3 separate regions of the Homo sapiens genome follow, and regions 2 and 3 are each linked to region 1. The links come from fine-mapping of genetic effects on gene expression. A gene starts in region 1. Each other region holds a variant in brackets. All regions are shown on one strand. Distances are between the middles of the regions.

Region 1 (4,000 bases):
AATCCTAAATTGTCATTTTGCCATTTCATTTCGCCCCAACCACCACCACCTAAATTGTAAAGCTGTACAGTCAGGAAGTCAATCTTATACTTCATCAGTATAATGTGCTGTGCAACACAGTGGGCATCCAATAACTAATTCAATTTGAATGAATTATCTGAGGGCCTGCACAGAAAGTGTCCTCTAAGCTCTGACATCATCCTGTCTATATATCTATCACTGGTTTTTATGTATATTAAAATTATTTCATGGGGAGGGTGACAGGGATGTAAAGATAAATAAAATCCTGTCTCTTCTTTCTGAATTATGGCATGCTCTATAAACATGAACTATTCAATAAATGTCTGTTGAACCTAACTAAATGCTAGAAGCCCTTTAAGAGGAATGGAATCAAAAAGTAACCATGGTCACACTGACTACCAAGGGTACCCCAACCCTTATTCTGTTAATAATTCAACACAAGCAGTTTGCTAAAGTTGTCAAGAGAGTTCTGAGATTCCCTGTTTTAAAAATAGCATTACTACTCAAAATTCCCCAGTAAATTTAAGGAAATGGTCCCTAACAGGCTCGGGCCTGGCCTGGTATTTTCACAACACCCCCTGTCAAAAGCCATACACAGCTAATAAGCATTCCCAGTGGGGAAAGTCATTAATTAGCAGAGCTGCCTCAAATGTCCAGACACTACAGTATCACTTTGACCCCTGTCTATTTCCTGTATCTCTCCATTTAAACCAAATTAAGTCTTCTTTTTTTTTTTTTTTTTTTTTCTTCCTGCACGCAATGCTAACACAGAAATCCCTGGCCTGGAACAAAATGCCTCTCCCAGGCCAATGCAGCCTACCTACCTTACAGGTGGCACAGGCCTGGGCAACCCGCCCCCCACCCCCATCCCTTCCAGCGCACAGAAACCCTGCAAAAGTTTGAAAACGCAGGTTCCAAGAGGCCCCCGTAGCCCGAGGTCAGCTCGGTGGTCCGGCTCCAGCTGTGCCCGGCGACAGCCAAGATGGCCCTGAGCGGGGCCCACTGCGGCGGCGGGGCCGAGGGGCGCCGGCCGGGGCCGCTGTCTTCGCCGCCTACCTGAGCGGCGTCAGGGACCAGGGGGCAGGCCCGACGCCCCTCCCGCTCCGCCGCAGCCCCGAGCCGGCGCGTTCCCGGAAACGGGGGCCGGGCGGGCGCCAGGTAAGCGGCGGGGGCGATGGGGACGGCCGCGGGGGCGGTCCCGGACCAGGTGGGCCCTGCGGGCCTGCTGAGAGCCCGGTAGGGCCCAGGGGCCAAGCGCAGGCAGAGGCCGCGGCCGGGGCCTATGCGGGCCGGAGCCCGGATCCAAGCCGGGCCGGAGGCGGCCGGGAGCGGGGCGGGAAGCCGGGGAGGGAGAGAGGGAGAAGCCGGCGGCTGCCGTGGCTTCCTCAGCCGGGTCCGGGGGCGTCCGCTGGGGCAGGCCGCGACGACGCGGGTTGCCGCGCTAGGGGGCTGGGATCTCGGCGCGGCCGCGTTCCTTACCCTGCATGCTGCTGACGGCCGGGTGGCCTGGCGCCGGGGACCCTACGGGGCCGGGGGTGCCGCTGCCGCTGCCGCCCCCGGAGCCGCCGCCGCCGCTCGGGCTCGGAGCCGCCATTGTTGGGAGTGAAGAGCCGAGCGGCGCCGCGGCGGCTGCAATGCAGCAAGCTCGGCCTCTCGCACGGCCGAGGGGCGAGGCTTACCCCCGCCTTGGCCCCGCCTCCGACACGCCCCGGACACGCCTCCTGACACGCCCCCGCCAGAGCCCGACGCGCAGCCCGGGCCAGATGCTGAGCTGCAGAACCGCCCGGCTCTGGGTGCGCGACCTGTGAAGCAGACAGCTGTCTTGGACCAGGGCTGCGGGCCCGCGGGGCCTAAAGTGGTTTGCAGAATTAAAGGTGGGCCTGCATTTGTGCGGAAAGAAGGTACGCAGCTTTCATCATTCCCATGGAGGTCTGTGACTCCCAAAAGTCCACTTTGTTGGAATCTCAGAACCCCAAATCAGAATAGTAAAGCTGAAAAGGATCCCAGGGATCCCTTTCTCCTCCAGTCGCTAACACATCACTTCCAGAAGGGAGTTACCTAGAGCTATGGTTACAGTCTGGAACTCCTCTTAAGCCCAATACCCCAACCCTCTACACTTCTCTGAGGGGAAAGGGGAGTCCCAAGGGGAACTAACCAAAGTGCTGTCCATGGACCCATCCCAAAACTACTGAATTAGAGGTTACATTTTAATAATACCACCAGGTAATTTGTATGCCCATTAAATTTGAGAAGCATATATTTAAGCACTCGACACTTCCCAGCCTCCTGAAATATGCTATCTACATCACCATCTTCCCCTAAATGCACACTGGATTCCCTCTCCCAAATCCTTTACATCTTGTATAAGACGAGCCGTAGTCATTATTGTAAGTTACATAAAATGACAACCCCAAAAAACAATATGAGGTTTCTTCCATTGCTTTGCACAGAGACTTTTATTTTAGGAAGACAGTAGCTAAAAGAAGAAAAAGTTCTCTATGAGGCTACGATTTGTAAGCCAACCATAATGTACTCGAAATGGTAAGACATGGGTTTCTGGCCAGGCAGCCTTGCCTAAAATGGAATAGCCAGTTATCCTACTTCCCAAAGAATCTAAGCCATGGAGCTGGACATTTTCTCCCATTTAGAAGCATTGTGTGATCTACAGCTAGACTTCTTTCCCAAAACTTCTTCCACCCAGATGTTATTTGATGCTGAGAGTTCTTCACAGCATGTTGGAAATGTGTCCTGGGTCAAAATAGCCCTGCCTTCTTGTTCCAAACCCAATTTCATCCATCATCTTGATGGCTCAGATCCTAAAAGTGGCTAGCCGTAAACATCAAGTGGAGAGGCATTAAAGGCAAATTGAAGGTGAGAGCAGGTAGGTGTACTTCAGTGGAGAGCCCGCCAGAATTCTCCTCCATGGGCCTCGTTGGCTGCCCAATATCTTCAAGTCCAGGTCTTATAAACATGGCCAGATTCCCATCTGGAAATCAGTAGCCCACCCAGCTCTTGTTGCTCCTAGGGCATCTTAATTATGAGCCATCATAACTGGCCTTTAATAAGAATTTAATATATATTCTTTTAATAGAAATCCTAGAAGCAGCACTACAGATTAGGCAACTACTAGAAAATTAATTTAAACACACACACACACACACACACACACACACACACACACACACATCCAATATTATAAATAACATATATTAAAGAAGGCTGGGGATGTTGGCTCACACCTGTAATCCCAGCACTTTGGGAGGCCAAGGCGGGTGGATTACGTGAGGTCAGGAGTTAGTGACCAGCCTGGCCAACGTGGTGAAACCCTGTCTCTACTAAAAATACAGAAAAAAACAAAAATTAGCCGGTGTGGTGGCAGGTACCTATAATCCCAGCTACTAGGGAGGCTGAGGCAGGAGAATCGCTTGAACCTGGGAGGCAGAGGTTGCAGTGAGCCGAGATTGTGCCACTGCACTCCAGCCTGGGTGACAGAGCAAGACTCCATCTATTAAAAAAAATATGTATATATATAGTTATATTTATATATATATAGGAAAACCTTCAACCTAGCAAATTCATTAAGGGAAATTGGGAAACTGAATTAAAAGAGAAATACAATAAAAATATAACTAATCTTATTTTTAAGAATACCTAATTCTGAGTTTGTGATAAAACTGACATATACTTGCATTGCTGTTGGTATTGTAAACTAGTAAGAGCCAATAATTAGATGTGCATATGGCAAAAACAAGAAAGCACTTTGATTTGTTCCAACTGAGGAAGCTATGTATGAGCTTTTTAACTTTTTCTTATGCTCACATTTCTCTTACATATTTGTGTTTTATGATTTCTTATGGACTAAATTGTATTCTGCTCCCTCACCAAATTTACATGTTGGAGTCCTAACCCCCAGCATCTCAGAATGGGACTATATTTGGAAATAGGGTCTTTAAAGTAAAATGAGGTCATACGAGTGGGC
Region 2 (4,356 bases), 50 kb before region 1:
ATTCAGAATATACATGGTCACAGACTAACAGAATTTGATTAGAAAGAAAACGCAGACTTCACTCTTGTCCTTCTAAGAAACTTCCTGAAAATACTGTATTGGGCTTCATGTTCCTCCTCTGTGCCCATAAATGTTGAAATCAAGATACACCTAGTCTGTTCCAAACTCCTGATCTACAGTCCTAGTAACACTTTCAAAAAAGTATATTAGGCTAGTTTGGAACTGCTTACTTACTCTTAGTGAACCCTAATTTGGATTAACCATTTCTATTTAATTCTTCTATGATCATCTCCATGAAGTCTGTATCAGAAGCTTCATTTCAAAGTGCGCAGGTGAGAATATAGGCAATATAAGGTGGCTTTTCTCTGCAGCTCCAGCGTCTACATTGGAATCCCTTGCCTACTATTTGATTCTTCACCATGTGAATTCATCACTTTTTAAACATTTCAGAATATACCCAAATACAGTAAATGAGACTTCCAGGGAATGCAAATAGATACCTACCACTGTTATTATGGTTTACAAATATGCCCATATGAGAAGAGGAAAATGTCACAGACCTTCTCTCCTGCCCAGGCCAATAGTTTGTATACTCCCACAATGACAAAAAGGCTCTCAACAAAAGCCAAATCTCAGGTTCACTGGTCTATACATTGGTGTGTACCTTCTACACTGCCACTCCTCTACTTGCTTATTAAGTCTACTTCTTTTGAATCATATATATATATTTCCCAGTGCCGTAATTTAGCGATGAGCCATTCCTCAAAACTGTGATTTTTGTTTTTGTGCCAACCATTTTTCATTAAAATTTCAAATTCATTTTGTTGTTTTTTTGGAGGTGGGAGTTAGGGTGAGAAAAATATGAAGAGACAAGAAGAGAACGATATGAAGCATCAGGCACTGGTCTTCATCCGTCTCCAGTGAATATTTTAGTACTCTTTCTCCTATGAATTTTCTAGTACTCCCTTTACTCTACTGCTTATGTTTGTGTCACAAAGGCTATCTTCTATGATTCAACTATGCCTCTATCACCTTGCCTTTGAAATGTGAGTTTAATATCTTCTCCAGCAGGTCAAAGGAAACACTAAGAACTGGCTATCCTTAATATACAATGTGATTTAAGAAGCCAAAACCCAGTTCTTCAATACCATCTGTAGTAGGGTGAACTATACACCACCCACCACACAAAAAAAAGATAGGTCCATCCAGAATCTCAGAAAGTAACCTATCTTTACGGATAAAATTAAAGATCTCAAAAAAGAGATTCTGGATTAGGTGGGCACTAAATAAAATAACTATCCTTATAGGAGACCAAACAAAGAAAAGGAGAAGATAGAGATGCACAAGACAGACACAGGGAAGAAGACCATAGAGATTACGGTTATGCTGCCACAAGCCAAGGAAGAGCAGCAGTACCAGAAGCTGAAAGAAAGGGGGGATCCTCCCCCAGAACCTTCGGGAGAAGCATGGCCCTGCCAACACCTTCAGATTTCTGGCCTCTAGAACTGTGAGAGAATAAATTTCTGTTGTTTTAAGCCACCAAGTTTGTGGTAATCTCACAGAAGCCTTGAAAAATCCAGTACACCATCTAAATCATGAGTCACAACCTTTTTCTGTAAAGAACCAGATAGCAAATATTTTAGGCTTTGCAAGCCACTAGTCTCCTGCAACTATGCAGCCAGATGGGTGTGGCTATGTTCCAATAAAACTTTACTTACAAAAACAAGCAAACAGGATGGATTCAGCTCATGAGCTGTAGTTTGCTGACTACATGATATAAATGATACCAAATGGTATCTAGCAACCTAAATTGCATCTATCATGCAAATAATCTAAATCATATTTTCTATATCCTTTTTCTCTTTTACATTTATAATTATGCTCTATATGATAAGCACCTTCAATTATCTGCCCAAATCCTATAGTTCTGTTTCCAGAATTTAATCTCAAGATACATTTCAGAATTTTTCTTGAAAATGGCCCACCAATCAACAGAGAGTGGAATTAGGGGCAGAAACCCTTCTAGGATTCTCTCATCACTTAGGTAAGTACGCTAAGATGGCAGCAAACCTCCTTGTTTAATATCCTGGACATCTCTCATATCTACCTATCTTTCAGCAAGTAATAGCTAATTATCTTAACAGATTTCTTTTTCCTGCACATGAGAACTTGATTTCTCAAACTTGACAATGTCTACTATTTTCCTTCAATAAATAAATAAATATCTTCTTGTGCCTAGAACCACTATCCGTAAGAACCTTTTATTATTTAATTAGTTTGAAGTATGTTTTCTCCTCTTATTTCACTATCACATTCTTCTACCTCGATCATCTGATCTTGATTTCTTCCCAATGCTATCAAATATACCTTCTTTCCCAAATCATTTCTTCCTTCTTTTTCCTAAGCAACTTTGACTGTATCAAGCCAGCATATACTAAAACGCCCCAAGCTGTTTTACTGTCTCCTCAGCATGCATATATATATATATATATATAT[A/G]TATATATATATATATATATATATATATATATATATATATGACTAATCTTCCTTAGACAGGAAAATAAAGGTAAGACATACCCTGCACATCACTGCAACTGTTCTTCTGTGTCCGTACTGTTACGATCTCTAGATGAATACTGCTTTATGCATCCTTCTGCAATGCAGCTCTGTTAATTCCGGAAATTTCCACAGTAAACTCGGTCTGTCAGTTACCATGGAAACTGCCTGCTTCCTGGCACTACCAACAAATGAGTATCTTTGCTGTGATCTAAGATGAGGCAAAAGGAAAAACTGAAAAATGAAATGTCCAGAAGAATGGCTCAAACATTCTAAATAGAAAATTTCAAATTCTGATACTCATATTTAGTGAACAGAATGTATTAGACAAATTAGATAAGTCTGCAGTATTCTGAAGTAGTACTGATTTATGACATACAAAGAAATGTTTTATCACCACAGAAAAGAGTAACATTAAAGAGGACAAGACAAACATTCATGTTTGCATCATGTTGCTATTGACTGTTTCCTAAGAGCTGATCCTGTGTCAGTTGTACTCTAAGTTTACCCTTAGAACAGTTTTTCTGGGCTATGCTTCTTCAAGAAAAGGTAAGGAAAACTGCCCTAAATCTATAGGTTACATGTTTTCATGAGATCCTTTCCCTGTTTAGGCCCCAATTTCCAGTGGCAGCTAAAACCTCTTCCCAAGTAAGTAAGAAATTAAGAGTAGTTTAAAGTGTATCTCAGGAGTTTTTGCCAACAAGGTAGCTTTACTAGCATTCTCAGAACATTAGACATAGCCAACCACAATTCCTTCCCAACTGCACTTTGAAACAATGCTAGATTTCTATAACATCATGCACTACCAGTTTGCTTCCTAATTATCAAGCATCTTTTAATTTTTGCCTGTCCCTCCTCTTCTATCCAACCTCTAAATGTTAGATTTTCTTGGGGCTCAGCCCTGGACACAATTTTCTCATCAAAATACATTCTCACTCTCTTCCTAGGCAACCCTTTCATCTATATGGCAGCAATTTTCAACTTTTTATCTCCAATCTACAACTTCACTTCTGGCACCAGACTCATATTTTCAACACCAGAGTATGTGATACATGCACATAAGCACAGAAACACATGTATACATAAATACATATACACACACGCTATATATATATATAATATATATATGTATGTTTTGATATCCCTAATAAAATGTCACAGGTCCCTCAAACTTAAATATTATCTAAAACTCGATCTTGCCCTATGACCCCTATTTACAGATGCTCCATACCCAGTAGTCTCCATCACAGTAATCGCAACTAAACCCATTAATTCAAGCCAGAATTCTACAAGTCACTATGAACACCTTCCTCCTTGTCATCATCTACATTCAAATTATCACCAATATTTATTAATTACTTCCAAAATGTCTTTACAGTCTCTCTACATGTACTGTCATCAATTTAATACTATTGAAGTCATGATAGGTGACTATTACGCTTTACCTACATTACCATAGTTTTATCAGGTCTCCCTAACTATATTCTTACCTCCTTTCAGTACATAGTCCACACGGCAGCCAGAATAATTACTTTAGACTGTAAATAATCAGTTTAAATTGTAAATCACTGACCTACTTACAACTTTTCCATAACTCCCCACTGCACTTTGGATGTCATCCAGCTCTTTATCTACAAGGCCCTACATTATGTGGCCCATCTCTCCATACCTAACTGTCTCTACACCCTTAATCTAAATTTGTTTGTTTTTCCTTTCTCATTCAGTCACCCTCCATGTGAACTGCCATTCCTTCCATTCCATGACAAGTTGAATATTTCCCACCTTGATAATTTCAAATAC
Region 3 (4,000 bases), 83 kb after region 1:
TAACAACAAAATACTCTCTGGGCTTTGACTCTTTGCCCCTCATCTTGAGCTGACCTGCGGTGTGGACAGGAAGGAAGATAGCTCATAGGAACATGTGAGCTATGTGAGAAACACCACCATGGCCAAATACTGGGATACTGCACAATCAGATGTGCACCCAGTAACCTGCACACGTGTCCCACACAGCATTGTGCATGGCAAGTGATCACAGTTCATATCATTTCTGAAATACACAAGCACATACACACCCCATTTCTTGGGTTAGCTGGGGGAGGGGATAAGGAAATGATAAGCATTAGAACCTTCTTTGAACCTTGACTGAAGAATTCTAAGTCTATTACTTATACAGTCTCAGCCTTTTCCAGTTTTAGATCTAGGAACATTATTCATTCTGGGTGGGTTCTTCTCTTTATTTTCAAATTATACATCAAATAGTGGAATAGACTGAGTAGAGTGATATGGAGCAGCTTTCTCGAAGTATGCTCACCTCATCAAAATCACTAGGTTGCCAATGCAACCTAACCCCAGACCTCGGAGTCAGAATTTCAATCTCTCTGGCACATTCTTAGGCATATTAAAATTTGAGAAATACTATTTTGATGACATGACTCCATACCTTTATATAAAAGTCCAACTCTTTTAGTATCAGTTTGCTTTCCTAAAATCAGTCTCTAGAGGCTAAAAGTTTGATAATCTTCCCAAGGATGTTTACTTGTAAACCTAATGGCATCTCTAAATTAAAGAACCCAGCTAGGACCGGGTGCAGTGGCTCACACCTATAATCCTAGCACTTTGGGAGGTCAAAATGAGAGGATTGCTTCAGCCCAGGAGTTCAAGACTAGCCTAGGCAACATAGTGCGACCCTGTCTCTACAAAAAGTTAAAAAATTAGCAGGGCGTGGTGGTACACACCTGCAGTCCTAGCTACTCAGGAGGCTGAGGTGGAAGGATTGCTTGAGGTTAGGAGTTGCAGGCTGTAGTGAGCTGTGATTATGCCACTGAACTCTCCAGCCTGGGTGATGGAGTGAAATCTTACTCTTAGAAAAATTAAATTAAAAAAAAAATCCAGGCAGTACCATGGGGTGGATGTCAGTTGGTACAAATACATCTTTAGGAAGTTGGTTAGCTTGTCTCAGAAAAAAATTCATGGAGAAATTTCCCTTTGGTGGCCCATTCTTTTTTTGTTTTTTTTTTTTTGGAGACAGTCTTGCTCTGTCACCAGGCTGGAGTGCAGTGGCACGGTCTTGGCTCACTGCAACCTCCACCTCCCAGGTTCAAGCAATTCTCCTGCCTCAGTCTCCCGAGTAGCTGGGATTACAGGCGCCCACCACCACACCCGGCTAATTTTTGTATTTTTTAGTAGAGATGGGGTTTCACCATGTTGGCCAGGCTGGTCTCGAACTCATGACCTCATGATCTGCCCGCCTTGGCCTCCCAAAGTGCTGGGATTACAGGTGTGAGGCCCATTCTTTCTTTATCTTCAGCTACCCCCACACCAGGATCAGAGCCCCCATGTTGCCTTGGGTTGTCCTGAAACCCACAC[C/T]TCACCCTGGTCTGCCTTTCTACTCCATAATTCCCTTCCACCTTCCTAAAATTTCAGGAAGTCCTGTGCTTAGTGGCAGGTAACTGTGTATTTAGAGACTCTCGGACTAGAAGCCATTCACACGAAGGGAAGGCGTTTGCATTATGAAGGACTGTGTTCTTCCCCACTGGCATCTGGTTGGTGAACTGAGGTGGGGGTGCTCAGGGGCAACCCCTTACCCATCCTTGCTTGGTTTGCCAGGGGATCAAGAAGTCACATTCAAGGTTCCCAAGCCACCACTGTTCAGCCCTGCCCTTTCTTCACTTTGGCAGAGAAGCTGAATAAAAATGGACTTTGGGTGGACTGGCAAAGAAAACTGCTGAACCCAATGGCAGGGACTTCCTATGATTTAACTGATGGCCAGCATGGTGATGACGGGAGGGGAGAGGCTCTTGGCGGTGACAGGCAAGCATCTCCAGGCTGCAGGTGGTTGGTGCTTTGTGTGTTGTCTATGCTGTGTACTGCCAAAATGGCCAGCAGGAGAAAGGTGTGCATCTATGATCCTCGGGGTCCCCCAGAACGACCTCAGGCAGTCCCCACCACACACACCTTTTCTTCTCTTGTGGCGCCCGCTCCGTCTCTGGCCTGGCTGTCCCGAGGCTGCAGCTCCAGCACAGTGCGGAAGAGCTTTTCTGAGGTTTGGGTCAGGAAGCCAATCTCTGCGTTCGGGTGGAGGCCATAGAGGTAGGGGGATTCTGGGGGCAGCTCAGCATCGATGTACTGAAAATCAAGGGCAAGCTCACTTAAAAAGAAACCAGGACGTACCTCCCATCTCCCACACCGGCTTGTCCTCTGCAGGGAGTCCATGGGCTAGTATCCCTCCTCCAGGGGACACTGCTCACCATCCCTGGTTGACTTCATCACCCTCTCCACCTATTAGTGCACCTTGACATCATCCATTTTTGTCGGCTGGACCCGTTTCCCAAAACTTCCACATTCATTCTATCATTCTCTTTTTTCTGGGAGGCTTAGATGACTTTATCTATCTCCACACCCAATGCCTCCCACTCCTCCCTGATGACTCTTTTTCCTGCAGACCAGAGGAGGACTTCTCATAGTCTTTCAAAAATACGAATCCCTCCCTAGTGATTTTACGTAAGCTCTTCTAGGATTCCAGACCTTTCCTTCTTTTCTCTCCCCTCCATCTAAATCAGATATGACAAACCTGAACATGTACATGGGATGGCACATGCAAAATAAACAAGTGAATTGGGCTTAGGACGAAGGAGGTGAGATTGGCTGCGAACTGGAGAGTTTGCGCCCCTGGTGAAAGGTATTCAAATAAAAAAAATTTTGAAACTATGTGTCACCCTAGCAGCTCCTTTCTGTGGCCAGTGCTAGTGGCTAGAGTCTGCCATGCCTAATGCCTAAAAATCCTAACCAGCGGCTAAGGCTCAGTTTTATTTTATTTTATTTTATTGTGTGTGTGTGAGACAGGCTCTCACTCTGCTGAAAAAACTAGAGTACAGTAGTGTACAGTAGAGTACACAGCTCACTAAAGCCTCCACCTCCCAGGCTCAAGTGCTTTCCACCTCAGTCTCCCAAGTAGCTGGAAATACAGGTACATGCCACCATGCTCAAGCCGATTTTTTATTTCTATTTTTTGTAGAGATGAGGTCTCACTATGTTGCCTGGGCTGGTCTCTAACTCATCAGCTCAAGTGATCCTCCAGCCTTGACTTTCCAAAGTTCTGGGATTACAGGCGGGAGCCACCGCGCCTGGCTCTGAATGTTTTGAGCGCCTCTTCATGGCTCTTTATACGATGGTGGGAAAATATCCCTCAAGTTCCGTTCCTGATATGATTTTGACGATTCCTTGGTGTTATTAACACCTAGCCTAATAGATTGCCCATTCCTCAAGGGCCGATCTGTATGTTCATTTTTGTATTTCCTCCAGCGTTCTGTGCAGGCCTGGACTCTATGTAGATGCCCTAGAACCATCTATTAACTAACACATTAAAGAGAAGTATAAGAAAGAGAGTGTACCTCAGTCATTTGGAAATGTGCAAATCGATTTCACCCTTGCTGAATAAGAAAAACAGACTTCCTTTGCCTGTTACTTGCTCCAGCCTCCTGTCGAATTATCCCATGGACACTAGGGGACGCTGTTGCACAATTTTCCCGGGAAAAGCCTTTTTGCCTTTGGTGAAGTAGTTAAAAACATTTCCTCTTATTTTCCTTAAAGAGCTTTATTGTTTTAAATCTCCTCTTATAGGTCCAATTTTTCTGGATCAAATGACTTTTACGATTTACCCTTAAGTTTAATGAATTAAAGAAATTTTTTTAAAGCTTGCAGTTAATATTCCTGTGATCAATATTTCCCTTATGTTTTATATTCAAGAGTTTTTCTAGGCATGTTCAAAAGCCTACCAATAAAAACTGCTAAAAAATATCTTTCGGGCCGGGCGCGGTGGCTCACG

The links. PIP is the estimated chance that this variant, and not a neighbour inherited with it, causes the effect. A credible set is the group of variants that fine-mapping cannot tell apart.
Region 2: its variant is the best candidate, but not a certain one, in a credible set for the expression of MAP2K4 in whole blood (INTERVAL, PIP 0.63).
Region 3: its variant is the best candidate, but not a certain one, in a credible set for the expression of MAP2K4 in whole blood (INTERVAL, PIP 0.67).

The regions. Positions count from the first base shown.
Region 1 is chr17:12,018,502-12,022,501 of GRCh38, reverse strand. It overlaps MAP2K4 (mitogen-activated protein kinase kinase 4), which reads right to left and starts at 1,625. Exons shown (of 11, transcript NM_003010.4): 1 at 1,501-1,625. The coding sequence starts at 1,615. It also overlaps a transcript of ZNF18 not described here. RefSeq lists a silencer at 909-1,788 and an enhancer at 1,325-1,825.
Region 2 is chr17:12,068,071-12,072,426 of GRCh38, reverse strand. The region is part of intron 2 of MAP2K4 (mitogen-activated protein kinase kinase 4); the gene reads right to left. Among named protein-coding and RNA genes, the nearest start is that of MIR744, 12 kb to the left of the region's middle. The variant A/G (reference allele first, on the strand shown) is at 2,497.
Region 3 is chr17:11,935,653-11,939,652 of GRCh38, reverse strand. DNAH9 (dynein axonemal heavy chain 9) reads right to left here. Exons shown (of 69, transcript NM_001372.4): 66 at 2,131-2,301. Among named protein-coding and RNA genes, the nearest start is that of ZNF18, 60 kb to the left of the region's middle. The variant C/T (reference allele first, on the strand shown) is at 1,543.